3 separate regions of the Homo sapiens genome follow, and all the other regions are linked to region 1. Evidence: fine-mapped expression QTL. A gene starts in region 1. Each other region holds a variant in brackets. All regions are shown on one strand. Distances are between the middles of the regions.

Region 1 (4,246 bases):
CAGAGGTTGCACTGAACCAAGGTCACGCCACTATACACCAGCCTAAGCGACAGTGGAGACTCCATCTCAAGGAAGGAAAAAAAAAAAAAAGCTCTAAACATTTCAAAAATGAGAAACAGAAGGGACCTTATTTTCAGAATTTAGGTTACACAGAGAAACTATGAGAGACTAAGATGCCAGAGTTATCCACAATCACAACCTGTATAGGTTCCTTCGAGCAGGTGTCACTTGTGACCTTGCTCCTGAGTGAAGTCACATCTTTGCATATAATTTTTCCCCATAACACTTTTCTCATAAGTCTGAAGTAACCAACCTTGAGTGATATGGAAAAAAATACAGGAAATTATTCTGATGGTATTTATAGGTCAGAGCTCTAAAAAATTTAGAGGACTAATATTTTACTTAGATTAACTAGGAGAAGTTAAATATAGTAAGTGTCCTATAATAATAATCTTCCCTTGATATCACAGGAGATTGGTTCCAGGATCACTGTGGATACCAAAATCTGCAGATGCTCAAGTCCCTTATACTTCAAATATAAAGCCAGGCATGGTGGCTCACGCCTGTAATCCCAGCACTTTGGGAGGCTGAGGCAGGCTGACCACCTGAGGTCAGGAGTTCGAGACCAGGCTGGCCAAGATGGTGAAACCCTGTCTCTACTAAAAATAAAAAAATTAGCTGGGCATGGTGGCACACACCTGTACCTCAGCTACTTGGGAGGCTGAGGCAGGAGAATCGCTTGAACCCAGGAGGCAGAGGTGGCAGTGAGCCGAGATTGCACCACTGCACTCCAGTCTGGGTGACAGAGTGAGACTCCATCTCAAAAAAATAAAAATAAAGTGAATGGAAGTATATTTACATATAACCTATGCACATCCTCCCATATACTTTAAAATTATCTCCAGATTACTTATCATACGTAATACAACGTAAATGTCTGGTAAATAGTTGTTATACTGTATTGTTTAGGGAATCATGACAAGAAAAAAAAATCTGTACACGTACAGATACAACCATCGCAAGCTTAACAACAGTTATGATTCATGTTTGTTGAATCCGTGGAAGCAGAGCCTACAGACACAGAGGGCTGACTGTTCATTCACTGATTCAGCAAACATATACATTTATGATTATGTGTGCTGAGAAACCTTGGTTTACAATTTGTAATGGGATATAACAAATCAAAGGATCAAACTTACTTAGAAGCCTTCTCTAAGATGTAAGTGCCTTAGAACCTGGCTAGACAGTGCTATAAATTGCTGAAACAGGTACAGAGGGGAAATAGATGGAGGCAGACTGCAGGAAGAAGGAGCCCTTTAGACATAAAGAGCTTGAAGTTCCCTGTAACTTCCAGGTGGACTGCACATTGGGCAATTAGATAATATGGATTAGGAGCTCAGGACAAGCCTCCAGCAGAAACAGACATTTATTAGTCATCTGTATTAGATGAAGCCATGGATGGCAGTGTAATGTTGTTGCTGATAGGAGTACTTAGATGATCAAGGCCAGAAACTTAGAAACACCAATAGTTAGGGGAAAAGCAGAAACTAAGTCCTGTCTTCTTTGTATCTTTTACTTTTTCTGTATATTTCAAAACTATTAACCCTGTTACTTTTTTATTTTATTGAAAAATATGTTAAGAATAAGTGTGACAAGATACTTGAATATGTTGATATGTTAAGAATAAGTGTGACAAGATACTTGAAGATAGGATACTTCTATCTTTGTATACACAAGAAAAGAATTTCCCCTATATTTACAAAAGGCTGGGGAAACCCTGATTAAATTAGGAGTGAGATTGCTGCCCTCACTGACGAACTAGGGAGTTTCTTGACCTCTGCGCTAAAGGCAGGACAAGTAGCTTCCAAATTCTGTGCCGTCTGCGCTATTGGAAACTACCTCTTAAAGATATTCCTTAGTTCAGGGTTTCTCCAAGCAACTGCACCAAAGTTTCTCCAAAGTATTAAGAAAAGTCAATGCCTACTGGGTGTACAGGCACCCAGTAACAAGTTTTTCCGAAATCTTGCCTCTTTAAAAAAATAATGGAAAGGTAATGCTGATTTTGTTTTCTACTCCACAATAGGTCTGCTTTTATATAAAAAATCACCTTTAAAATTACTTATCCGCTCAATTCCTTAGCCTTTTCCGTTTCCTATTTTCCAGAAAACGCATCTTTATTATTTTAGAAATGAGAAAAGTGAGGCTTAGAGGTTACTACCTCACAAAGCCATCCGTCCATCCTCACAAACTTGGAACCAGTTTCTCACTAACTCTGCACCCTCAACACCCCCTCACACTCTCGGTCACCCACCCGCGAACCCACCCGAACTGTACCCCTGCCCCCAGCCACACAAGCTCGGATCACCGCACATCATAGAAGGCGATTCCTCCCCTCCATACTCCCAGCCCCGTCGCAGGCACTGCAAATCCTCCCCTCCAGCGTCCCTGGCCCGTTTCAGTGTCCAGAAACCCAAGTCCCACAGGGCCGAAACCCAACTCACCGGCAGACAAAGACGACCATGGCAAGTCGGAGATTCCGCGCCTGCGCACTCCTTCCGCGGGCAGCGCTCCCAGAGGTCTCCTGGGCTGGGCCAGGCCCCGACTCAGAACCGGACGGAATCGAGAGATCTTGGCCCGTCCTCCGTGCCACTCTTTTGAGGGTAGACTACATTTCCCAGAAGGTTCAGCGGTTTGAGTCAGCTTTTCGCGCGAACTTTTCCTCCGCCAGAGCTTGTGGGACTGTCTCCCTGGCCGGGGCAGGGGTGTAAGGCCTTAGTCTTAGTTTACTCTATCCCTGGGATTGGGTAGTGGTGTAACATCAGCTTAAACACGCTGTGCTGACTTTATGTAACAGCCACGGTGCGATACTAAGCCAGGAACCCCAGGAGACTCTCAGACACGGTTCGGGAATGAGGGTAATCCCTTTGGCTGGGCTCAAGCCGGGCGCCATCTTGCTCATCGCGGGCGTGGCGCTGAACTACATTTCCCAGAAGGCGCCGCGCCCTCGGCCCCTCCCCTCGCGACTCCCGCGGCTCGGGGGAGAGCTGCACGCGACCCAGGTGCTGGCCTCTGAGCGGGTCGGCTCGGAGACTACAGGATCAGGAGGAGGTTGGAGGTGAAGCGTCTGGAATCCGGTGCGGAGGTTGAGACTGAGTATTAAGTCTGTTCAGGCGGAACGCGCCGAGAAGGGCGGTTGTGAAATTGTGTTTTTGTGAATGTATGTCCTAGCACAGTGTGTGTGTGATTGTGATTGTGTGTGACACCTTGTGTACGGATGTGGGGAGGACTCTGCGGGTGTCCCGTGAGTCCCTGTGTTAGGACTGTTATTGTGTGACTGTGTAACGCTGTGTGAGGGTGTGGGTTAGCTGTGACTGTGTGCCCGCGGTGGGTGTGTGATTGTAACTCTGTGACCATATGTTCGTTTGTGTGCAGATATAGGGAGCTTTGTACTTATGTAGTTGTGACTCTGTGTCCTTGTGTGGGAGTATGGAGGGTGGGTGCTTGTGACTTTGTGTACAGTGGTGGGTGTGTGACTGTGAAGCATTGGGTGTGCGTGGAGTTGAGACTGTGTTTGTGTGTCTTTGACCAAATGTCACACATAGTCATATGTGAGAGCAGAAGACAGCTCGGCCCCGTGATAGTAAAGGGGATTTTTCTATGACACTGAGTTTTGAGTTGGAAGCCCCAGTTTCCTCTGATAGCCCTCCCATGGCGGGGGAGGGGAACGCAGAGTAAGCTCTGGCCTTGTCATTTGGGCCCTAGGGGAGGTGTATTGTCTCCCTTCTCATTTCTGTCCTCCAAGAGAGGTTCCCCAGAGGAGAGGAAATAACGGTTGTGATATCTAAAAGCCATGTTTAAGGTGCCTTGAAGTTTTCTCTTTGTTCCTGAAATGCTTTATTTTTCCAGGACCTGATTTTTTTTTTTTTTGAGATGGAGTCTCGCACTGTCGCCCGGGCTGGTGTGCAGTGGCGCGATCTCGGCTCACTGCAACCTCCGCCTCCCAGGTTCAAGCGATTCTCCTTCCTCAGCCTACCGAGTAGCTAGGATTACAGGTGCCGGCCACCACGCCCGGGTAATTTTTTTGTTGTTGTATTTTTAGTAGAGACGGGGCTTCACTATGTTGGCCTGGCTTGTCTTGAACTCCTAACCTTGTGAACCGTCCACCTCGGCCTCCCAAAGTGCTGGGATTACAGGCATGAGCCACTGCGCCCGGCTGATTTTTTTTTTCTTAGCAAATGCCTAAAAG
Region 2 (4,246 bases), 21 kb before region 1:
TTTTGGCTCATTGCAACCTCCGACTCCTGGGTTCAAGCGATTCTTCTGCCTCAGCCTCCCAAGTAGCTGGGATTACAGGTGCCCACCAATGCACCCGGCTAATTTTTTTTTTTTTTTTGTATTTGTAGTAGAGACAGGGTTTCAATATGTTGGCCAGGCTGGTCTCGCACTCCTGACCTCGTGATCAGCTCACCTCAGCCTCCCAAACTGTTGGGAATACAGGCGTGAGCCACCGCACCCGGCCCCCATCTTAGACATTTTAAAGTGTACTGTTCAGTGGTATTAAATACATTCATAATGTTGTGCAACCATCACCACCACCCATCTTTATAATTCTTTTCATCCTGTCATAATGAAAATCTATACCCATTAAACAATTAACTCCCCATTCTTCTTCTCTGCTAAAAACCATAATTCTACTGTCCCTATGATTTTGACTACTTTAAGTACCTTGGATAAGTGGAATCATATAGTATGGTCTTTTTGTGACTGGAATATTTCACTTAGCATTATGTGCTCAAAGTTCATCCACATTGTAGCCTATTACAGAATGTCCTTCATTTTCGAGGCCTAATACTATTCCACTGTATGTATATACCACATTTTGCTTACCCATTCATCTATCTATAGGCACTGGGGTTGCCTCCATGTTTTCGGTATTATGAATAACGCTGCTATAAACATGAGTGTTTGAGTACTTTCTTTCAATTCTTTTAAGTATATACTCAGAAATGGAATTGTTTAATCATATGGTAGTTGTAGGTTTAATGTTTTTCTCTTTTCTTTTGGAGACAGAGTCTCTCTCTGTTGCCCAGACAGGAGTGCAGTGGTGAGACCACAGCTCACTGCAGCCTCAATCTCTAGGGTTCAAGCAATCCTCCCACCTCAACCTCCTGAGCAGCCTTCTGAGGTGGCAAGGGCTGAAGTTGCTGTGGACTGATGTGAATACACTGCTGGAAACTTGGGATAACTTGGATCTGTGCCACTGCTAACATTATCATGACATTATCAAGAATTCAGGGAGCGGTGGCTGACGCCTGTAATCCCAGCACTTTGGAAGGCTGAGGCGGGTGGATCACTTGAGGTCAGGAGTTCAAGACCAGCCTGGCCAACATGGTGAAACCCTGTCTCTACCAAAAATACAAAAATTAGCTGGGTGTGGTGGCAGGTGCCTGTAATCCCAGCTACTTAGGAGGCTGAGGCAGGAGAATCACTTGAACCCGGGAGGTGGAGGTTGCAGTGAGCTGAGATCTCACCACTGCACTCTAGCCTGGGCAACAGTGCAAGACTCAAAAAGTCTGGCCAGGCGCGGTGCCTCATGCCTGTAATCCCAGTACTTTGGGAGGCCGAGGCAGGTGGATCACCTGAAGTTGAGAGTTCGAGACCAGCCTGACCAACATGGAGAAGCACTGTCTCTACTAAAAATACAAAACTATCCGAGTGTGGTGGTGTATGCCTGTAATCCCAGCTACTCGGGAGGATGAGGCAGTAGAATCATGCCACTGCACTCCAGCCTGGGCAACAAGAGCAAAACTCTGTCTCAAAAAAAAAAAAAGTTTGACTTAGGGGCATAAAGTACAGGTGCACACCACCACAGCCAGCGAATTTTTATATTTTTTGTAGAGGTTGCCCAGGCTGGTCTGGAACTCCTGGGCTCAAGAGATCCCCTTGTAAGTGGCTGGGCGCGG[C/T]GGCTCTCGCCTGTAATCCCAGCACTTTGGGAGGCCGAGGTGGGCAGATCACGAGGTCAGGAGATTGAGACCATCCTGGCTAACACGGTGAAACCCTGTCTCCACTAAAAATACAAAAAAATTAGCTGGGCGTGGTGGCGGGCGCCTGTAGTCCCAGCTACTCAGGAGGCTGAGGCAGGAGAATGGCGTGAACCCGGGAGGCGGAGCTTGCAGTGAGCCGAGATCGCGCCACTGCCCTCCAGCCTGGGCAACACAGTAAGACTCCATCTCAAAAAAATAAAATAAAAAAGAGATCCCCTCCTCTCAGCGTCCCAAAGTGCTATATGTTTAATTTTTGGAGGAACTACTCTATTTTTTTCCACAGTGGCTGCACCATTTTACACCCTCATCAACAGGGCATAAGAGTTCCCATTTCTTTTTTTTTTTTTTTTTTTTTTTTTGGAGGTGGAGTCTTGCTCTGTCATCCAGACTGGACTGCAGTGGCTAATTTTTTTGTATTTTGTAGAGACCATGTTGTCCAGGCAGGTCTCGAACTCCTGAGCTCAGGCAGTCTGCCTGTCTTGGCCTTCCAAAGTGTTAGGATTACAGGCATGAGCCACGGCGCCAGGCCAGGTTCCCATTTCTTTTGATCCTTGTAAACACTTGTTATTTTGTGTATTTTGTTTAATAGCTATCCTAATGGGTGAGTTGGTAATCACATTTTAGTTTTGATTTGCAAAGCACTGGCGCATGAAAAAATCTTGGGCCGGGTGCAGTGGCTCACGCCTGTAATCCCAACACTTTGGGAGGCCGAGGCAGGCGGATCACCTGAGGTCAGGAGTTCAAGACTGGCCTGGCCAACATGGGGAATCCTCATCTCTACTAAAAATACAAAAATTAGCCGGGCACGATGGTGTGCACCTGTAATCCCAGCTACTCGGGAGGCTGAGGCAGAGAACTGCTTGAACCCGGGAAGCGGAGGTTGCAGTGAGCCTAGATTGTGCTGCTGCACTCCAACCTGGGCGACAGAGCCAGACTGTGTCTCAAAACAAAAAACAAACAAACAAAAAACTTCTTCGGATAAATGGCTATTTAAGTCATTTACCCTTTTGATCTGGTTGTTTGCTTTCATTTTGAGTATTAGGAATTTTCTATATATTCTGGATATTGATCACACATCAGATACATGAATAACTTCAAATAGTGACTTTGTCTAATATCTCAGTTTTCAGAATTTCAGTATAATTGTTAAAAATAAATCAATTAGGGCCAGGCGTCGTGGCTCACGCCTGTAATCCCAGCACTTTGGGAGGCCGAGGTGGGCGGATCACGAGGTCAGGAGATTGAGACCATCCTGGCTAACACGGTGAAACCCCGTCTCCACTAAAAATACAAAAAAGTTAGCCGGGCATGGTGGCGGGCACCTGTAGTCCCAGCTACTCGGGAGGCTGAGGCAGGAGAATGGCATGAACCCGGGAGGCAGAACTTGCAGTGAGCCAAGATTGCGCCACTGTACTCCAGCCTGGGCAACAGAGCGAGACTCCGTCTCAAAAAAAAAAAAAAAATCAATTAGGTAAATGTAAATGGGATAGACATAAAAAGACTTTTCATGTCATTTGACATCGTACCATTGTGTTACTTAATTACTGGATACTTACTAAATGTCTTGGTTGGTACCAAATAAGATTAAAAAACCAAAATATGAATTGTTGAACACAAATGTTTGTTCTTGGCATTTTAAATCTTATAAAAACTCTAAATAGGCCAGGTGTGGTGGCTCACGCTTGTAATCCCAGCACTTTGGGAGGCCAAGGTGGGTGGATCACGAGGTCAGGAGTTCAAGACCAGCCTTGCTAACATGGTGAAACCCTGTCTCTACTAAAAATACAAAAATTAGCTGGGTGTGGTGGCGGGCACCTGTAATCCCAGCTACTCGGGAGGCTGAGGCAGAGAATTGCTTGAACCTGGGAGGTGGAGGTTGAAGTGAGCTGAGATGGCGCCACTGCATTCCAGCCTGGTGGACAGGACAGAGTGAGACTCTGTCTCAAAAAAAAAAAAAAAAAAAAAGGAAAAGAACCAATAGGACAGAGAGATGTAAACAAAGTTATTAATATGAAGATACATTTTTGGTAAGGCAAGTTAAAAGCAAAAGAGAATAACTTTGTATGAGAAAGAATTTTATGTGATAAATATTGGTCCTAAAGTGATTTTTTTTTTTAAAAGAAAGCATAGGACAAAGCGGAAAGTCAAAGTATGTTGTCAAAGGTCTGAATAAGTTGTGATAAAGTTAGTGGTGACAGAGATCTGAATTACCCCGTTAACAGTGGTGTATTCATACAAGACCACAGCAACTTCAGCCTGTGCCTTCTCAGAAGAAAGAATTCAACTGAGGGGAAGCAGAAAAAGAGACCAAGGCAAGTTTCAGAGCACGAGTGGAAGTTTATTTTAAAAAGCTTTAGAACAGTAAAGAAAGGAAAATTCACTTGTTAGAGAGCCAAGCAGATGCCTGAAGGTCCAAGAAAGAAAAGACCAAAAAAAAAAAAAAAAGTCTTTGGCCGGGTGCAGTGGCTCACACCTGT
Region 3 (4,246 bases), 54 kb after region 1:
TAGAAATTCTAAGCTGAGAAAGCTACTTAAAATTGGTCAAGAAAAAGATACACATTAAGTATAAGAAAGTTGGCATGGCTATAGTAGTATCAGATAATAGGCCTCAAAACAGTGTATATGGCAGGAGATAGGTAACAGTCATAAAAGAGCAGGTCATTAGGAATTTGCATATACATTTGTCACTACAGGGATACATTCTGAGAAATGTGTTATTAGGTGATTGCATCATGCAAGCATCATAGAGCACACTAACACAAACAGCAATGGGGTAGCCTACTACATACCTAAGTTATATGGTATAGCCTATTGCTCCTAGGCTACAAACCTGTATAGCATATTATATAGCATATAGCATACCTGTATTGAATGCTGTAGGCATTTATAACACAGTGGTGTTTGTGTATCTAAACATAGCAAAGGTACAGTAAAAATACTGTATAAAATATTAAAAAATGGCACACCGGTATAAGATACTTGCCATGAATGGAGCTTGTGGGACTGAATTTCTGGGTGCATCAGTGAGTGAGTTGTGAGAGAATGCTAAGGACTAGGACATTACTGTATACTGCTGTAGACTTTACAAGCAGTACACTTAGGCTTCACTAAATTTATTTTTTTAAGTTTTCTTCAATAATAAATTAACCTTAGCTTCCTGTAATATTTTTACATTATAAACTTACTATTTTTTATCTTTCTGAATTGTAGTGACTCTTCACTTAAAACGCAAACACATTATATAGCAACACAAAAATATTTCTGTCCTTATTCTATAGGCTTTTTTCTATTTAAAAATTTTTTTGTTTTAAAAATGTTTGTTACTTTTTAAACTTTCTTGTTAAAAACAAACACACTTTAGCCTGGGCCTACACAGGGTCTAGAGTATCAATATGTCTGTCTTTTACCGCCATATCTTGTCCAACTGGAATGTCGTCTTCAGGATTAAAAATATGCATGGAGCTGTCATCGCCTATGAAAACAATGCCTTCTTCTGGATACCTCCTGAAGGACTTGCCTGAGGCTGTTTTACAGTTACTTTTTTTTTTTAATAAGTAGAAGGAGTACAGTCTAAAATAATAATACAAATAGTACAATAAATTACATAAACTAGTAATGTAATCACTTATTATTATCACCTATTACGTACTATACATAATTGCATGTGCTATACTTTTATACAACTGGAAGCACAGTAGGTTTATTTACAGCAGCGTCACCACAAACACCTGAGTGATATGTTGCATGACAACGTCCACAAGTGATAGGAATTTTTCAGCTCCATTGTAATCTTATGGGACCACCATTGTATATGTGTCCATCATTGAGTAAAATGTTATTACATGACACATGACTGTGTTCATCAGGAATATGTATGCTAGTATGAACCTATAATGAGAGTGTTAAATTTTATGAAGCAAAAACTAACAGAACAAAAGAAATAGATCCACAAGCATAATTGGAAATCCACAATTATATCTCAGTAATTGATAGCACTTGTAGGCAAGAAATTCAGTAGTATATGTAATCAGCTCTTCATATATGCAGATTCAACCAATAGCAATGCACAAATATTCAGAAAAAACACAATGACAG[T/TA]AAAAAAATACAAATTTTAAAATACAGTATAAAATTATTTACATAGCATTTACATTGTATTAAGTATTATAAAAAATCTAGAGATGGTTTAAAATATACAGAAGGTTGTGCATAGGTTATATGCAACTACTACACCATTTTATATAACAAACTTGGGCATCTGTAGGTTTTGGTATCCACAAGGTGTCCTGGAACCAGTCCCCTGTGGATAGCAAGGGACAACTGTATAGAAGATATGAACCACACCAGTCAACATGACCTAATTGTTGTTTACAGAACACCATACCCACAATTGAAAAATTACATTCTTTTCATGTACCTGAACAGTCCCCATGATAGACTATTGGCTGGACCATAAGTCACAATAAACTTCAAAAGATTGCCACATTACAGGGAATGTGCATTAGAAACCAATAATAAGAAACCTATACAGTCCTTCAATACATGGAAATTAAATAACACACTTCTAGATCTACAGATCATTGAATAAATAAGGGGAAAATGTTTTGAAATATGAAAAAGTGACAACAGCATATCAAAATTGGAAGGATACAGCTAAAGCAGAGTTGAGAGGAATGTTAAGTACTTAAATAAAAAAAGGAGAAATTCATAGCAGCATTATTCACAATAACCAAGAAATACGTACAACCCAGATGTTCATCAGTGGATGAATGGATAAACAAAATGTGGTAATATGATTTGGATATTTGTTCCCTCAAAATCTCACACGGACATGTGACCCCCAGTGTTGGAGGTGGCGCCTAGTGGGAGGTGTTGGATTATGGGGTGGATCTCATGAATGGCTTGGTGTCCTCCACATGGATATGAGTTCATCCTATAGCTAGTTGTTTAAAAGAGCCTGGCACCTCCTCCCTCTCCCTTTTGTTCCCTCTTGCCATGTGATATGCTAGCTCTCCCTTTGCCTTCTGCCATAATTGTAAGCTTCCTGAGGCCTCACCAGAAGCAGATGCTGGCACTATGCTTCTTGTACAGCCTATAGAACCATAAGCTAAATAAACCATTTTTCTTTATAAATTACCCAGCCTCAGGTATTCCTTTATAGCAACACAAAACAGACTAATACATGTGGCATATACATACAATGTAATATTATTCAGCCTTGGAAGGAAATTTTGACATATGCTACAATGTGGCTGAACCTTGAGGATATTCTAATAAGCCAATCACAAAAAGATAACTACTTATGATTCCACTCATATGAAGTATCTAGAGTAGTCCACCTCATAAAATCAGAAAGTATTACTGGTCTCCCACTTTTAGGCTATTAACGCTTGTAGTGAGAGTTTGTAGGTTTCTTGTCGTGGTTGCCAGGGGCTGGGGGCAGGGGGAAAAGGGTAGTTATTATTTCATGGATATAGTTTCACATTTACAGGATGAAAAAGTTGTGGATGTTGGTTGTACAAAAATGGGAATATACTTAATGCTGCTGAGCTGTATACTCAAATAGTTAAGATGGTAAATTTTATGTTACATGTATACTTTGCCACCATTTTTAAAAATGAGGAAAGGCTTAAACAAGAATAATAAACATGCTATATGCTAAACCAAAAGTCAAAAAAAAGAAGTAAAGATGGGCATAAATCGGCTGGGCGCGGTGGCTCACGCCTGTAATCCCAGCACTGTGGGAGGCTGAGACGGGCAGATCACGAGGTCAGGAGATCGAGACCATCCTGACTAACATGGTGAAACCCCATCTCTACTAAAAATGCAAAAAATTAGCCAGGAGTTGTGGCAGGCGCCGCCTGTAGTCCCAGCTACTCGGGAGGCTGAGGCAGGAGAATGGCCTAAATCCGGGAGGAGGAGCTTGCAGTGAGCCGAGATCGCGCCACTGCACTCCAGGCTGGGTGACAGAGCGAGACTCCATCTTAAAAAAAAAAAAAAAAAAAAGATGAGCATAAATCAATTAAGTAGAAATAGAAAGCAGACCATTAAGAAAATGAACAAAACAACAAGTTTATGTGAAGGTATTTTAAAAATGGATAAATCCCTAGTAAGCATAATTAATAAAATAGAAAACACAAATTGCCCATGTCAGGAATAAAAATGAAGATGCCACTACGGATCCTATAGACAGTAAAATGATAAGGCAATATTATGAACAATTTTATGCCAATAAATTTGACATTTTAGATGAAATTCATCCATTCCTTTAAAAGCACAGCTTCTCAAAACTCTTGACTCAAAATGAAATAGAAAAACAGAAAGTCTGTATCTAATTGTTTGTTTGTTTGTTTGTTTGGAGACAGGGTCTTGCTTTGTCAGACTGGAGGCTAGTGGCATGATCATGACTCACTACAGCCTCAACCTACCAGTATCAAGTGATTCTTCTGTCTCAGCCTCCCAAGTAGCTGGGAGTACAGGTGGGCACCACTATGGCCAGCTAATTAAAAAAAAAATTTAGAGACAGGGTCTCACTTTGTTGTGCAGGCTGGTCTTGAACTCCTGGGCTCAAGAAATCCTCCCACCTTGGCCTCCCAAAGTGCTGAGATTTCAGGCATGTGCCATGACACCTGGCCTAAAATTTTAAGTTTTAATAAATAAAAATCCATACATACAGAACCAGGTTCAGCTCCACTGAAACCCCTGCAACTCAGCCAAAAGTAAATGTAACATGGTTTTGAATGCTGTCTTAATC

The links. PIP is the estimated chance that this variant, and not a neighbour inherited with it, causes the effect.
Region 2: its variant is the best candidate, but not a certain one, in a credible set for the expression of ZNF260 in lung (TOPMed, PIP 0.85).
Region 3: its variant is the best candidate, but not a certain one, in a credible set for the expression of ZNF260 in whole blood (INTERVAL, PIP 0.57).

What each region holds. Positions count from the first base shown.
Region 1 is chr19:36,525,718-36,529,963 of GRCh38, forward strand. It overlaps ZNF260 (zinc finger protein 260), which reads right to left and starts at 2,554. Exons shown (of 3, transcript NM_001166037.2): 1 at 2,502-2,554. RefSeq lists enhancers at 1,851-2,561, 2,302-2,931, 2,562-3,270, 3,082-3,281.
Region 2 is chr19:36,504,557-36,508,802 of GRCh38, forward strand. No RefSeq gene overlaps it. Among named protein-coding and RNA genes, the nearest start is that of ZNF566-AS1, 17 kb to the left of the region's middle. The variant C/T (reference allele first, on the strand shown) is at 1,689.
Region 3 is chr19:36,579,230-36,583,475 of GRCh38, forward strand. All of the region lies in intron 3 of ZNF529-AS1 (ZNF529 antisense RNA 1), which reads left to right. It also overlaps a transcript of ZNF529 not described here. Among named protein-coding and RNA genes, the nearest start is that of ZNF529-AS1, 8.0 kb to the left of the region's middle. The variant T/TA (reference allele first, on the strand shown) is at 1,591.